2 linked regions of the Homo sapiens genome follow. The protein of the gene in region 1 interacts with the protein of each later gene in a biochemical or structural test. Each region holds a gene or a part of one and is shown on either strand. Other genes may lie near its edges.

What was found.
Region 2: the proteins of DNMT1 (region 1) and BAZ2A form a complex in vitro, tested with the Homo sapiens proteins (one study listed by BioGRID).

The regions. Positions count from the first base shown.
Region 1 is NC_000019.10:10,132,740-10,136,138, forward strand, and holds the end of DNMT1 (DNA (cytosine-5)-methyltransferase 1), read right to left. Parts: coding exon 3,382-3,399; intron 3,114-3,381; coding exon 2,997-3,113; intron 1,569-2,996; coding exon 1,478-1,568; intron 963-1,477; coding exon 928-962; 3' UTR 607-927; downstream 1-606. UniProt on the Homo sapiens protein: Methylates CpG residues. Preferentially methylates hemimethylated DNA. Associates with DNA replication sites in S phase maintaining the methylation pattern in the newly synthesized strand, that is essential for epigenetic inheritance.
Region 2 is NC_000012.12:56,606,181-56,613,471, forward strand, and holds part of BAZ2A (bromodomain adjacent to zinc finger domain protein 2A), read right to left. Parts: intron 7,054-7,291; coding exon 6,835-7,053; intron 6,067-6,834; coding exon 5,593-6,066; intron 5,454-5,592; coding exon 5,393-5,453; intron 4,360-5,392; coding exon of another isoform or gene 4,338-4,359; coding exon 4,229-4,337; intron 4,036-4,228; coding exon 3,934-4,035; intron 3,767-3,933; coding exon 3,556-3,766; intron 1,249-3,555; exon of another isoform or gene 736-1,248; intron 554-735; coding exon 453-553; intron 133-452; coding exon 67-132; intron 1-66. UniProt on the Homo sapiens protein: Regulatory subunit of the ATP-dependent NoRC-1 and NoRC-5 ISWI chromatin remodeling complexes, which form ordered nucleosome arrays on chromatin and facilitate access to DNA during DNA-templated processes such as DNA replication, transcription, and repair.

The sequences.
Region 1 (3,399 bases):
TTAGCTGGGCGTGGTGATGGGCGCCTACAATCCCAGCTACTCGGGAGGCTGAGGCAGAATTTCTTGAACCCAGGAGGCAGAGGCTGCATTGAACGGAGACTGCCCCACTGCACTACAGCCTGAGCAACAGAGCAAGACTGTCTCAAAAAAAAAAAAAAATTCTTTGGAAAGAAAAAAAACCCAACTAAAGAGGTTTTGCTTGGGGATGGGGTGGCCGGGGCTCCAAGGGCAGCTCAGTGGTGACTTCTCTCTCCTTATTCCACCAGTTGCAGCACAGAGCTCTGCCTCATGGTCACAGGATGGCTGCTCCACTGCCAGGCATCACAACCCACTTCAGACCAAAGAAGGCCTACCAGCCACGGGGAAGGCCAGCCAAGACTTCCTTTAAAAGGCTTTCCTGGAAGCTACACTAGCAAGTTCCATTTGCATGTCATGGGGATCAACTCACGTGACTCAGTTCTGAACAAACACAGACAGACACACGGAGTGTCTAGCTTCAAACGTGCTAGCTTCAAACTCCACGTGGGTCGCCTTCAGCATGGAAGAGCTTGTTCCTGTCTGACCTCAGCCAGAAGTCCCGTGCAAATCACGAATACCCACCCAGGGTGGTTTATAGGAGAGATTTATTTGAAGAAATATTACAACATATAAAAACTACATAAAGTCTTAATTTCCACTCATACAGTGGTAGATTTGATATAATGCATAATAAAAAACTTTTAAAATCCAGAATGCACAAAGTACTGCACAATTTGATCACTAAATCATTAGTTGATAAGCGAACCTCACACAACAGCTTCATGTCAGCCAAGGCCACAAACACCATGTACCACACATGTGAACGGACAGATTGACATGTTAAAAACACAACATCAGTGCATGTTGGGGATTCCTGGTGCCAGAAACAGGGGTGACGGGAGGGCAGAACTAGTCCTTAGCAGCTTCCTCCTCCTTTATTTTAGCTGAAGGGAAATAAAAGGAAAAGTCACTCTGGGGAACACGCCCGGTGTCACGCCACTTGACAGGCGAGTAACAGACATGGACCATCAGGAAACATTAACGTACTGATGTTAACAGCTGACCCAATAAGTGGCAGAGTGCTAAGGGAACGTTCACGGAGACTGAACACTCCTCAAACGGTCCCCAGAGGGTTCTAGACCCAGAGGCTCAAGTGAGCAGCTGAGGCAGGTGCCTGCTGAGCCAAATTCACCGAGCAGGAGTGAGGGAAACGGCCCCAGGGCCAGCCCAGCAGCCAACCTGACCAAAGGCCTGCTGTGTGCAGCACGCCTGCTCTAAGCACTTGACACGTGCAACTCACTCAATCCTCACAGCAGCCCCTTGAGAAAGATGGGGCCACGAACGTGGGTAGGTGACCCGCCTGAGTCCCAGAGCCCAAAACGGTGGCCAGCAACTGCCCCCACATGTACCCCCAGAGGGCAGTCAGGCCCCAGAGGAAGCCTGGCCCACCCCACCATACCTGAGGCACTCTCTCGGGCTTTGGCCAACATACAAAGCTTGATCTCCAAGCCAATGGCTTTGGCCAGGGGCGGTGGCACGGCATTGCCCACCTGCAGGAGGGGAGAAGGGCAATGCCTGATGTGGACACCCAGGCCCAAGGCCCGGGGGCAGGTGTACTGCCAGCCCCTGCTCAGATGGAGGACAACCTGGGCATTGCACCCCTTGGGGAAGGGTTCTGGTCCTGCTCACATGGGCCCAAAACCCTTCCAGCACAAGATCCTTGGACCCTCCAACTGGCCCATCATCCCGCCCCACAGCCACAAGTCACTGGGCCTTTGAAGAGCTTCAGAAAGACTTGAGACAAAGACACGTGGGGCTGGGAGCAGTGGCTCACGCCTGTAATCCCAGCACTTTGGGAGGCCAAGGCAGGTGGATTAGTTGAGGCCAGGAGTTCGAGAGCAGCCTCGCCAACATGGTGAAACCCCGTCTCTACTAAAAGTACAAAAACTAATTAGCTGGGCATGGTGGCACATGCCTGTAATCCCAGCACCTCAGGAGGCTGAGGCAGGAGAATCACTTGAACCCTGGAGGTGGAGGTTGCAGTGGGCAGAGATCATGTCACTGCACTCCAGCCTAGGGGACAGAGTGAGACCCTGTCTCAGAAAAAAAAAAAAAAAAGACAAATGGGCCACCTAGACACGTTTCGCTCCCAGTTAAGAGTGGCTGCTTCCCTGGCCGGCGCAGTGGCTCATGCCTGTAATCCCAGCACTTTGGGAGGCCGAGGCAGGCGGATCACCTGAGGTCAAGAGTTCGGGACCAGCCTGGCCAACATGGTGAAACCCCATCTCTACTAAAAATACAAAAATTAGCCGGGTGTGGTAGCACATGACTGTAATCCCAGCTACTCAAGAGGCTGAGGCAGGAGAATCACTTAAAACCAGGGGGGTGGAAGTTGCGGTGAGCTGAGATCACGCCACTTCACTCCAGCCTGGGCGAAAGAACAAAGCTCCATCTCAAAAAAAAAAAAAAAAAAGAGAGAGTGGCTGCTTCCCGAGAACCAGATTCGGGGGGAGGGGTGAAATGTGGTTTTCACAAGAACCGTGGACACTGGTTTTTAAGCAATGCGCGTGCCCTATGATGAAAATACACTTAACTGAGACTAACTCATAGACTAACTTGTTAAGCCAACCCGACACCTGAGAAGCAGGTAGGAATTAAGGTGCTAGTTCATTTGAACCTACAGCGAGTGAGCTGTCGCCACCATGGGTTTTAGCCTGCTCCTTTAGCGCGACGGACTGTCCTTCTGGCTCAATCTCTGCCTCAAAAACAAACAGTAAGGAACCAGCATAGGGACGCAGCCTGACTCGGATGTCTCAGCACTGTCCCTCCTGTGGGCCGTCTTCCCACTGAGAGTGATGGGGCTACCCGGCAGCCAGCAGGCGTCCTCCCGGAAGTGACTGCGCTGGCCCCAGCCCCACCTGGTGACAGGCACAGAAGCCTCCTTCCTGTCCAGACCCAGCGGGCGCCGCCCCACTGACCTGCCGGTGCTTGTCCAGGATGTTGCCGAAGAGCCGGTAGGTGTCAGGGAAGCCCTGGGAGCGGGCACACTCCCGCACGCTCACCACACGGTGCTGCTCTGGGTGGAGCACGCGGCCCTGGGGGAAAGAGGCGCGGTGGGCGAGGGCAGTAGCACCCAGGCCGGGTCACCGTCGGGGACAGGGAGGGAAATGGCACTGTGACAGCATACGGCCATGGCCTTGGCCTATGAGCTTGTCCCGTGGACGTGGAGGGGCAGGAGGCAGAGGCCAGGTGCCTGGGGTCCTGGGGTGCTGTCCCCCACTTGGCTAAACCCACACTTCCACCTAGTTAGGCCGCCAAGTACAGGGCCTGACCCAGGCCCTCGGATGCCCCCTCCCCACCTACCTGCTTGCCCATGGGCTC
Region 2 (7,291 bases), on another chromosome or scaffold:
ACATGTCCTGCAAAATCAGTTTAGTGGCTTCGAAATTATACTTGGCAAGTTTGTACATGCACCTACCTTGGATTTCTTCTTAGCTTCCTTCTGCTTTAAGCTCTTGGTCTCTTGTTTCCGCTTATTTCTGGCCTGTAAACCATAAGGGAAGTCATTTCTCCTCAAACTCTGAAAGCATCTCTGCTTGGGCTAGGATTCAAAAACAGACAAGGGTGCTGGGGAGGAGAGGTGAGAGATGGAATGAGGGGTTGGCAATGGATTAATTCTCTCACCCTAGAGATGCCCACGTTATTTTTGAACAAACCCAATTCTCTAAATCAAGTGCAAGAAATTTCAGGGTAATGAAGATATGCTGCTACACAGGGAGTGACGGATGTGGGAAATGAAAATAAAAGATGAAGTAAGTTGTAGGAAAAATTAACCTACTGTTTCATCTCTCTGATGTCCCTCACCTGCCCTTGGATAGTAGTCTGACACTCTCCCCGTTGAACCTTCTGCCTCATCTTCTTCTTGCTTTTAGCAATCTTTGCTTTATCCTCCTCATTCAATGTTTCTGTGAGAGCAGAAAGAAAAATGAAACAAGTGAGGCAGGAAGGCAGTTCTCTAGCATCCAGGGCAACACATGCCCGTCTCAAAGCTGGCCTCCCAAGCAGCTCCCTGAAGAATCTAGAGTAGCTTTTTTTTTTTTTAAGTATACATAATAAAACATTGGGGGAAAAAATGTAGGAGAGGCACCTGCTATGGGGGTGGCACAAAGAACTCAAATGACATCTCCTGCCCAGAAGCACCAGCCCCTGGCTCCAATCAGACTGCTTTAGAAGGTGTCCTGCTGATAGAAAAGAGGCCACAATGGCAGAGTAGCCTTGGAGCCAATCTCTCTCCCAGGATACCTGACAAGAGCAGAAACCCACGGACTGATTTTAGAGCAGAAAGCAGAGAAAGGATACAGCAAGCCAAACTGCCAGGGAAAGAGGGTAGTAGTTAGAAGCACTGATTAACCAAGGGTGTGCCAGAAAAAAGGCCCACACAGTGGACACCTCAAAAGAATCACTGACATAGTTATTGATCATGCTCAGCTCCATGTCTTGCTTCACTAAAAGTTCTGAATTTCTTCCTTTCGGGAAGACTTGTGGAAGTATAATTCTGCAAACAAGAGTATTTCATAATTGATGTTTCTGACATGACTATATATACATATATATATTTTTTGACACGGAGTCTCACTCTGTCGCCCAGGCTGAAGTGCAATGGCACAATCTCGGCTCACTGCAATCTCCACCTCCCAGGTTCAAGCGATTCTCCTGCCTCAGCCACCCCAGTAGCTGGGACTACAGGCGCGTGCCACCACGCCCAGTTAATTTTTAGTATTTTTAGTACAAGCGGAGTTTCACCGTTTTAGCCATGACGGTCTTGATTGCCTGACCTCATGATCCGCTGGTCTCAGCCTCTCAAAGAGCTGGGATTACAGCCGTGAGCCACCGTGCCTGGCCCTGACATGACAATATTTATTATTTTGTTTCTGGTATAGAAACGCCACCACATGTCTACGTGACAACCCTCTAAGACAGATATTATGGGCAGATGAACTACCTAAGGCTTTGATTAAAATATGAGACTTAGCTGGGTGCAGTGGCTCACACCTGTAATCCCAGCACTTTGGGAGGCTGAAGCAGGCGGATCACCTGAGGTCAGGAGTTCGAGACCAGCCTGACCAACATGGAGAAACCCCATCTCTACTAAAAATACAAAATTAGCTGGGCGTGGTGGCATATGCCTGTAATCCCAGCTACTCTGGAGGCTGAGGCAGGAGAATCGCTTAAACCTGGGAGGTTGCGGTGAGCCAAGATCGCGCCATTGCACTCCAGCCTGGGCAACAAGAGCAAAACTCCATCTGGAAAAAAAAAAAAAAAGGGCCAGGCGTGGGGGCTACACCTGTAATCCCAGCACTTTGAGAGGTCGAGGTGGGCGGATCACGAGGTCAGGAGATCGAGACCATCCTGGCTAACATGGTGAAACCCCGTCTCTACTAAAAATACAAAAAATTAGCCAGGTGTGGTGGCGTGCACCTGTAGTCCCAGCTACTCGGGAGGCCGAGGCAGGAGAATGGGGTGAATCCAGGAGGCAGAGCTTGTAGTGAGCCAAGATCGTGCCACTGCACTCCATCCTGGGTGACAGAGTAAGACTCTGTCTCAAAAAAAAAAAAACAAAATGAGACTTGTTCTAGGTCATTTGGTTGAAACATGACACGGCTAGATGTCTGAGTGAAAATCAAAAGACTAAGTTTTTTCACATTCTTCACACTACACCAGGGTAAACACACTATTTACTGAAAAATGTAGGTATTTCTCACCTGTCCATCCACTAAAACAGTGCCTATTATTATTATTATATTATTATTATTATTTTGAGATGGAGTTTCACTCTTGTTGCCCAGGCTGGAGTGCAATGGTGTGATCTCAGCTCACTGCAACCTCTGCCTCCTGGGTTCAAGCCATTCTCCTGCCTCAGCCTCCCGAGTAGCTGGGATTACAGGCATGCGCCACCATGCCTGGCTAATTTTGTATTTATAGTAGAGACAGGGTTTCTTCATGTTGGTCAGGCTGGTCTTGAACTCCCGACCTCAGGTGATCTGCCCTCCTCAGTCTCCCAAAGTGGTGGGATTACAGGCGTGAGCCACCGTGCCTGGCTTTTTTTTTTTTTTTTTTTTTTTTTGAGACAGAGTCTAGCTCTATCACCAAGCTGGAGTGCAGTGGCGCAATCTCAGCTTACTGAAACCTCCACCTCCCAGGTTCAAGCTATTCTCCTGCCTCAGCCTCCCAAGTAGGTGGGACTACAGGCACACACCACCACGCCCAGCTAATTTTTTGTTTTGTATTTTTAGTAGAGACGGGGTTTTACCATGTTCGCCAGGATGGTCTCAATCTCTTGACCTCACGATCCGCCCGCCTTGGCCTTCCGAAGTGCTGGGATTACAGGTGTGAGACACTGTGCCCGGCCTATTATTTTTTTTAGAAACAGGGCCTTGCTCTGTTGCCCAGGTTGGAATGCAATAACACAACTGAAGTTTACTGTAGCCTCCAAACTCCTGGGCTCAAGTGATCCTCTGCTGCCTGCCTCAGCCTCCTGGGTAACTGGGATTATTAAGCACACACCACCATGCCTGGCTCCCAATTATCTTTTGAATTCAGATGTGAATTCTGAACCTCCATGATAGTAGAAATGGGTAAGGTAAAAGGGTACAACTGAACCAGTATATGATAAGGAGCTAAAAGATGGAAAGAAAGGGCAAGAAAGTCCTCTCCTCTGGGCTAAACACACCTGGGGGCAGCCCAAGGTTTCACTGGTAACAGCAACTCAAGAAAGACCATGGCTGGAAAAGTAGTATTCCCAAGCGCTGGGACTAGGATGCTGGATTCCAAGGAGAAGCTGATTCAGATTCATTCTTCCCAGATAATGTTAGTTACACTCCTGGGAAATCCAGGTATTAGCAATTCATCAACATTTTAGATACCTCATGGAGGGAGCAGAATCCCAAAGTAAGAAATACCACTGTACCTTGGGCCTCCAGTTTCTTTAGGGGGCGGTTGTCTGTCTTGTTCAATAGCTCAGTGATTTTGACCTTAGGTGGCCGACCTCGACCCCGTTTCACCTTGGGGACTTCCTTAGTCTTAGCCTTCTCAGTGTTTCGAGGTCGACCCCGTTTGCCAGTAATTGCCTGAATCCTCGACGGGATCTCCTCTGCTGAGAGCTGCACCCACTGCAAGCCCTAAGGTAGCAAGGGAGACTGTTACAGTAGTAAGGAATCAGTGCAGGCCACGAGGCCCTCGGAACCATTCAATGCCCCAGAACCTTCAAACCCCACGAGAGGAAGCTGCAGCTTGTCCACCAACTCTTCCTCAGGGACAAAAGCATATTTAACCCTTGGGTCTGCACCTCTGGCGTGTCTCTTTCTTCAAAGAAATCTCCAACAGGCATACGGGGACTGAAGCTGAAGTGCTCTCGGCGGACACTGTGTACCACGTTGCGGCTCAGGTACTAAGAGGAAGAAGTAAAGTAACATTAATAAAGTTGGATCCTACCATGTCTTTGGCCAGCAAAGGCATAAGCAGAACAGGCCCAGAGCAGACAATGCCAGCCTGTTGTCACTGAGCCCAAGAACGGAGTCTTGGGCAGTGGAAAGGAGTCCACTGAGCCCAAGAAAGCAGTCCTTTAAAAAAAGCTACATTACCTTGATCACTTCTGGAAATTGCTTCATCCTCTTCCCACAGGGGCCATAATACCAGGTCTCCCCCTGCCATCGGTGGCTGCCCTTCTTGATGCGCACCTCTCTCCGCCACCTGCCAGAGAAGCACATGGGCCCTGCCGCCAGGTCACACCCCTACCCACTCCCATGCCACCTAAGCGCGAAGCCCTCTGAGCAGATGGCCCTCCCCACATTTGTATCTCTAGAACTGCATGCAGATGCAAAAGCACCAAGAGAGATAAGCTTGGCTAGAAGGCTGACTTGAGCTCCAGCAAATACATCAAGGCCCTTAGGAGAAAAGCACTACACCAAACTGCACAAGCTCAGAGAGATCTCCATCCCTCCTTTACAAAATCAGTGAGATAAGCTGCCAGAAACCCCTCCCTGAGCCATTCAGGGCAGTTACTGGATTTCCAGTAAAGAGGATAAAGACCTAAGGGGAATAAAGACAGAAGACAAAGGGCAGGGAGGCAAGCAGAAAAATAAATTTGCTGCTGATTCCATGAAAAGACTCAATATGCCAGGGTTTAGTTAGGAACTCTGTGTTCTGAGCAGAACACAAAGTTAGTCAGAGTTAGTTCTAAGACTAACTCTAATCTTTCTCTCAAAATTTTAAGCAGTACTCAGACTTGGTGACCACAAGTAGCCTTGAGGGGCAGGGGTGGGGAAGATCCAGGAAGGCAGTTATTTCCACAAGGCCCTGGTGTCAGCTAGTTTGTTCATTTTGGTCATGTACTGTTCCTGCCCTTACCTCTCCTAAGAGCATTAAAACAACAAAACCACCTCAATTCATTAGTACTAAGTCACTCCTCATTCATTACTATCCCTTGTCCACAGAAATAGGACAAGCCAGCTGGTTTGGATGTGAGCCCTAGGGTTTGGAAAAGATAATAGCTGGAGCTCCTTGGGCAAAATTGAGTCACTACAAGATGAAAAAAGAATAGGTGATGGAAGACAGACCTTGAGAGAAGAAGGAAAACCTAGGAATCTCATGCCAAGAAACATTATCACTGCAGATAACTGTCCTGTAATCTACTCTTGTCTGGCCCATTCCTCCCCCACCTCAGAGGAAAAGAGGCATTCCCTTCTTTCTAGAGTTGTGCATTAAACTTGTCAAGGTCAATAAATGTAGCAAACTAGAGCATTTACCCATGTTGGAGGGGAAGACGAACTTCTTCTGGGGTAGCAATACGTCTCCTCATGACATCACCTTGGGAGGAAGGGATACCCAAGTTAAGAGTTCAAGCAAAATATTTAAACAATAGGCCAATAGGGAAAGGCTAACTACAACATGGGACAGAAAAGTTTCTTGGAACCAGACAGGGATAGAATAGAATCTGGATACTCACCACTACCAGAAGCAGTGAGTCCTTCTCCAGTGATCTCTTCCACGTCAGCAGTGGTTTCTAGAAAGCTGCTGACATCCTTATTTGCTGGGGAGGCTGTTGGAAAGGCAGCTGCTGGGGAAGTTACGGGAGAGGCTTTTGGGGATGTCACTGAAGCCGTCAACGGGACTTCTAAGGAGACTGCTGGGAGGACTGCTGAGGAAGCTGGAGAGACCACTGAGAAGACTGCTGGAGAGACAACTGTAGAAGCTGCGGGACAAACTTCTGGAGAGATTTCTGGGGAGGCTGCTGGAGAAACCACTAGGGAGACTGCTGGGGAGGTTGTTGGCGAGACTGCTGGTGAGGTTGCTGGATGTAGCTGAATAGTGGATGACTGATCAGGAGCTGGCTGGGTCAGGGATGGTGGGAAGTCTGAAGATTGAGTTTCCATTTCTTCCTGTTCAGCGTCACTACCATTATTCAGGTCAAAGCTGTTATCTAGAATCCAAAGGGACAGGATAGGCTTTAAAAAAAAAAAAGGCATCACATAAAACAAGAGAATCTACTCAGTCAACCCTGGACCAAGCTAAACAGGGTTACTTCAAGGGGTCTTCCCTAGGGTTGGAAAAAGAAGTAGCTTTTTCTCCCAACCAATCATGAGGATTAAAGGGTAAAGTTGCTACAGATGTCATTGTGTGAAGAAATACCTTTTACCTGGTGCCAATAAAGCTTCTAGCCTCCTTCTCCCTACAAATTCCAAGTCTCACAAGTTCTTCAAAGCAGAGGGCACAGGTCGGAGTATAGCAGCCTATACCTCTTTTAGTTCCACCATACACTATCCCATAGCCCCTCAGCTCCCAGCAAGGTGCTCTTGCTTTCCTACTTTTTTTTTGAGATGGAGTCTTGCTCTGTTGCCCAGGTTGGAGTGCAACGACACAATCTCGGCTCACTGCAACCTCTGCCTCCTGGGGCCAAGCGATTCTCCTGCCTCAGCCTCCCAGGTAGCTGGGATTACAGGCATGTGCCAACACACCTGGCTAATTTTTGTATTTTTAGTAGAGGCGGGGTTTCACCATGTTGGCCAGGTGGTCTCAAACTCCTGATCTCAGGTGATCCACCCGCCTCGGCCTCCCGAAGTGCTGAGATTACAGGCGTGAGCCACTGCGCCCAGCCAGATTTCCCACTCTTAAGGCCCTAACTATGAAACTTATTCTCTCATCTTTTCTCAGGTAAAGGTCTTTCTTTGTCCTACCTACCGTCACTTACCTTGCAGGACAGACTCCCCTAGGACAGGTGGAGAGGTGGGACTGGCAAAGATAGAGGTTGATGTTTGACTATCATCTGCCAGGAGACTGAAGGCAGTAGCATTATTGAGGGAAGGGCAATCAAGGGCAGAAATCACAGGGCTGTCCTCAAGAGGCAGCTTGTCCTCTGCACCCATCAGCTCCGTGTCATCAATACCATATAGTCCTCCACTCACTGGCTCTGTTTACAAGGGTAGAAAAATCAGAGCAGGATAATGAGAAAAAAATCAGAAAGCAAGATTTAAGAAACACTGGTCAGAAAACATCCAATTCTAGTTCCCACAATGTGAAGATTCTTCCTAATATTAAGTTAGGTAACAAGTAAAGCCTTCTCCCTGAAAGAGTAGTCATGAGATTATAGGGATCATAAAAGTTTGAGGGGAGGCCGAGGCAGAAGAATTGCTTGAGGCCAGAGTTCA